Linked DNA regions of Homo sapiens: region 2 is linked to region 1. The links come from fine-mapping of genetic effects on gene expression. Tissue or cell type: lung. Region 1 holds a variant in brackets; the other region holds the start of a gene. All regions are shown on one strand. Distances are between the middles of the regions.

What was found. PIP is the estimated chance that this variant, and not a neighbour inherited with it, causes the effect.
Region 2: it holds the start of KANK4, and the variant in region 1 is fine-mapped to the expression of KANK4 in lung (GTEx, PIP 0.90).

The regions. Positions count from the first base shown.
Region 1 is chr1:62,350,815-62,353,653 of GRCh38, forward strand. No RefSeq gene overlaps it. Among named protein-coding and RNA genes, the nearest start is that of KANK4, 33 kb to the left of the region's middle. RefSeq lists an enhancer at 498-998. The variant T/C (reference allele first, on the strand shown) is at 1,732.
Region 2 is chr1:62,317,951-62,320,450 of GRCh38, forward strand. It overlaps KANK4 (KN motif and ankyrin repeat domains 4), which reads right to left and starts at 1,484. Exons shown (of 10, transcript NM_181712.5): 1 at 1,156-1,484. RefSeq lists enhancers at 77-801, 802-1,524.

The DNA of each region.
Region 1 (2,839 bases):
TTTGTTTTGTTTTGTTTGTTTGTTTGTTTTTCTGAGACAGAGTCTCACTCTGCTGCCCAGGCTTGAATGTAGTGGCACAATCTTGGCTCACTGCAGCCTTCGCCTCCCAGGCTCAAGTGATTCTCTTGCCTCAGCCTCCTGAGTAGCTGGGATTACAGGCGCGGGCCACCACACCTGGCTAATTTTTGTATTTTTAGTAGAGATGGGGTTTCACCATGTTGGCCAGGCTGGTCTCAAACTCCTGACCTCCAGTGATCCATCCACCTCAACCTCCCAAAGTGCTGGGATTATAGGTGTGAGCCACCATGCCCGGCCAAGACTAGTATTTTTTGTTGCTGTTTAGTTTTCATTTCAAAAATTTCCGCCAGGTGCGGTGGCTCACGCCTGTAATCCCAGCACTTTGGGAGGCCAGCGCGGGCGGATCACGAGGTCAGGAGATCGAGACCATCCTGGCTAACACGGTGAAATCCCGTCTCTACTAAAAATACAAAAAAAATTAGCCGGGCATGGCGGCGTGCACCTGTAGTCCCAGCTGCCGGGGAGGCTGAGGCAGGAGAATGGCGTGAACCTGGAAGGCGGAGCTTGCAGTGAGCCGAGATCGCGCCTCTGCACTCCAGCCTGGGCGACAGAGTGAGACTCCGTCTCATAAAAAATAATAAATAAATAAAAATAAAAATAAAAAATAAAAATTTCCAATCCATTGCATACAGATGATTTTGTAAAATAAAATGAAAGACATAGGTGCAAAATATAAGCCTTTGTCTTTGTTAAAAGAAAAAGCAGACATATAAAAAGCAAGCTTTATTTTATTATTATAGTCAAATTGCTGTAAGGATTTCTAAACCCTTCTTCTCAATTTCTGTACTTTTAGCTTCTTTGACCAGTAACAGTTTTCAGACCACACAGGTCTCTGGGCCGCACCTGAAGGAGCACTGTCCTCTAGCCCCCGAGACGACTCTGCACTTGGGCAGCACTTGATCCGCTTTAGGGAACCCATTTGAATTTCCCTGCCAAGTGTTCTGCCAGGTGTCCGAAGGGATGGGATGCGTAGAAGAGTGGTCCTTGTGGAGAGGCCCTCAGAATGAGGAGGTCCCTTCTGGTGATATTCACAGGCAGATGTGGTTGTGGTCCCAGTTGTGCTATCTAAGCAGCTTCAGGACCCTGGGTGTGTCACCTGAATGTGGCCTTGACCTGAAGCTAGACCAAGGTTCTGTTTTTTTTTTTAGACGAAGTCTCACTCTGTCACCCAGGCTGGAATGCAGTGGTGTGATCTCAGCCCACTGCAACATCCACCTCCCAGGTTCAAGCGATTCTCCTGCCTCAGCCTCCCAAGTAGCTGGGATTATAGGCACACACCACCATGCCCAGCTAATTTTTGTATTTTTAGTAGAGACGGGGTTTCACCATGTTGGCCAGGCTGGTCTCGAATTCCTGACCTCAAGTGATTCACCTGCCTTGGCCTCCCAAAGTGCTGGAATTACAGATGTGAGCCACCATGCCCAGCCTAGACCAAGGTTCTTAAGCTCTCTGTGCCATGGACTGCTTTGATAGTCTGGGGAGGCCTAGGGACCTCTTCTCAGGTAGCCGGAGAAGGAAGCCTGCCTCTCTAAATCCTTCCTGGTGCTAGTTGGGAGGGGCCTCATTCCATTGAGGGACCGTGACTCCAAGTTTCAAGTACTGACTTCAGTAAACAGGGTGGCCCACAGAGGAACCGGGAGCAACTGGGAAATA[T/C]GCATGGCACCTACTGTAGTGGACAAACGGGAGAGAAGCCAGGAGCAGAACTGTTAGCCTGTAAGTTAAAGAAAAGTGCCCTATGAAAGGGGAACTTTGTGCCTTAGTGTCTAGATTGCAATATTCTGTACCTTCCCCCACCACATCCCTCTACACTGTGAGCTTTTTTTTTTTGAAATAGGGTGTCACCCAAGCTAGAGTGCAGTGGTGTGATCACAGCTCACTGCAGCTTTGATCTCCCAGGCTCAAGCAATCCTCCCACCTCAGCCTCCTGAGTAGTTGGGACCATAGGCACATGCCACCACACCTAGTTAAGTTGGTTTTGTTTTCTGTGGGTTTTGTTGTTGTTGTTGTTTTGAAAGACAAGATCCCACTATGTTGACCAGGCTGGTCTAGAACTCCTGGGCTCAAGCAATCCTGCTGCCTGGGCCTCCTTGTTGGGATTATAGACATTAGCCACCATGCCTGGCCACTGTGAGCTTCTTGAAAACAGAAAAAAAATTCCTTATTATCATCAATATCCCCAGTGTCCAGCCCAGGGTCTGGCACACAGGAAACCCTTAATAACTATCTGAAGGATGATGAAAAGAAAGGAGAGTGGCCAAAGTCATCCTGAGCAAAAACAACAAAGCTGGAGGCATCACACTACCTTATGATGAGTAAGCTTCAGGGACAGTGTGCAGGGTCACAGAGCACAAAGTCGCAATTCTGCCTAGGAGGTGGGCAGCCAGGGCTGGAGGAGAGGGGAAAGGCCTCATGGAGGTGACATTTGTGCTGGTCTTTGGGTCTGCTGGCGTGGGCAGAGGAGAGGGGGAAGGATGGGAGTCAAGAGGCTAAAAGGAGGAAAGGCAGGAAAGGGAAGCTTGTTTGGAGAATGGCAGGGTGACCACCTGACCGGAATTTCAGGGGCTTGGGGGACGGTGGCAATGGGAGTGACAGGAGGAGTACACGAGGTGACTCTGGAGGGGCCAGCAGGCAAGCGGGGAGCCCTGAAAAGTTTTCAAGCAGGAAAGTGGAAGGATCACAACTGTCCTTTAGAAAGATGACAGTGCCAGGTGAAGAGACAATGAATTGGAGGGAAGAGAGGCTGTAGGGAGGGAAAACACTT
Region 2 (2,500 bases), 33 kb before region 1:
TCACATTATGGTCCAGTGAAGTGGGAAGGCTGGGCTTGAAAAGGCAGTATTAGAACGGACTCTGCCTCCATTCCCAGTGTAGCTTTCCTGTGTCACATTTTGAGAGGCTCTAAGCAACCTGGGCTTGATTTACCCAAGCAGGTCCTTGGGAATCGTGTTTAACTCAAGATGCTTTCTCCCCATGCCTCAGCCGGGTCACTGGCTGCATCTGATCCTCCTCTGGCCCTATTTGGTAGATAGGACTTTGCCCAGGCCTCAGGGGGTCCTCCTCCCTCTCCTGGAAAATACTCCCTCTTTGCCCTAAAGGCTTGCACTCCAGGGCGCTTAGGAACTAAGACTTGAGTTTGGCAGCCCCGAAGGATGCCCAGGGCAAGAGTTAGGTTCAGACCCAGCGTAGCGGCCATGGGCTCGACTTTCCAACTCCCATTTCTGGCCAGTCTGCGGGGTCAAAGTACCCAGTCACAGATTTGACCTTACCGGAGAGGCAGAAGGGAAAGGAGCCCACAGGAGGCATGCGGGCTGGGCAAAGCGCCCTCGGCGGCGTCTAGAGCACTCGGAGCTGCCCCATTGCCTCCGCCCAAGGTCGCGGCCCAAAGGGAGCCCTGGAAAGTTCAGCCAGGGGCCGAGGAGTGCCAGGGTTGGCACTACGGGGAGACTTTTGCGACAGGAGAGAGACTAAGAGCTCGATTCCAGGTAGCAGTGGGAGCCCGCGGCAAAGAACGCCCAGTCCCGCAGGCTGCATCCCAGACCGCAGCGCCTAGCTCGGAAAAGCTGGGCGGGGGCTGCACCACCTGAGTCGCAAGGACAGCACGGCCTCCCCCTCCTCACCAGTGTTCTCCACCCCCAGAATTGGGGCGCGGAGAGCCAATCTGGGCTGGAAAGGGAGCGGCGCCCACCTTTGGGCAGCCCGAGCAGCCCCGCTCCTTTTCTGTCGCAGACCCCAGGCTGGGAGGCGGGGGCGCCAGGTCGGCCCAAGCTGCCGCAGCCACTGCTTTAAAGGGAGCCGGGGACGCGGCGCTGGGGACTGGGCGAGGCGGGTGGCAGAGGCAAGAGGAGAGTGGTCGAGCGCCGGGGCCAACACTCGGGTCGCGCAGGGCGGGTGTTGAACACCCCAGCAGACGCACTGCGGGGGACTGGGGTCGCAGAGTCCCTTACCTTGGCGAGCTGCGGAAGTCCTGCGCGAGGCGGCCCGCGGTGCACGGGGCCGGGGCAGCTAGGCGCACACCCCGGCTTCGGAGCGCACGCAACCTCCGGGTGCACTGTCCGCGTCCCAGGCGCGCACCCCGGGGCTGGCGCACCCTGGTCGTCCGCGGCGCGCACACCCTCCAGGCGCCCTCTGGCCGACGGTCTCGGCCCTGGCCCCGGCGCACCCCTGCGGGCACACCCACCGCGGCGGATGCGGGACTGGCCAGGCGCCGCCAGCCGCGGCTTCGCCCCGCGTCGCCAGCTGCCAACAGCGCCCGAGTCCCCGCCTTCGCTAGGGGAGAAAAAAAAGACTCCTGACGCGGCGCGGACTTTGGTGTGTAGGAAGGGGCAGAATTGCGAAACCGAGGGGAGGGTCTTAGCCTCGATAAACTCAAAAGCCCTTGATAAACATGAGCTTAGAAGAAAAACTTTTTGAAAAGAGACCAAAAACTCCTAACCTGTTCATAGCGCTTTTCAGATTCCCAAAGTGCTTTCGTATGCGTTTATCTCGGTTCATCTAGACATTTCCATCCTCATTTGATAGGTGCAGAAACAGCACCAGACAAGGTAATGACTTGCCCCAGCCAGGACTGGAACCTAGGTCTGGCCACTGGGAAGCTGGGTGCAGTAAGTTAGGTCCTCGCCAGCGGATGTGGGCCAGTGAGGGCTGGGGTCCTAGTAACAGAACTTTTACCTCTCCTAAATCGTCTTTTTCCATCTCCTTTTTTTCTTCCCAATCCTTGCTGTAGTCCCACTCAGGAACCCTAAGTCTTTCATTTCACACTCCGACCTCCCACCAAAGGTTTGTTGTTGTTGTTGCTGTTTGAGACGGAATCTCGCTCTATGGCCAAGCTGGAGAGCAGTGGCGCGATCCCGACTCACTGGAACTTCCGCCTCCCTGGTTCAAGCGATTCTCCTGCCTCAGCCTCCCGAGTAGCTGGGACTACAGGCGCACACCACCACGCCCAGCTAACTTTTGTATTTTTAGTAGAGACGGGGTTTCACCATGTTGGCCAGGCGGGTCTCGAACGTCAGGTGATCCGCCCACCTCGGCCTCCCAAAGTGCTGGGATTACATGCATGAGCCACGGCGCCCGGCCCACCAGAGTTTTTTATCAGTTCAAAATGTTTGCGTTTCAACCGCTAACCTTGAATGAACAGTTCACTAAGTGCCTGGTGGGCGTTGTGCACCCTAACCCTAGGAAAAAGGAGCTGCTGCTACTCCTCCTTTACAGATGAAGACAACAGAGATAGGCAAGTAGAGGGCCGTGGACCCCGTAAGACTCCGGATGCCAGCTCTGACCCCCACAATGGGC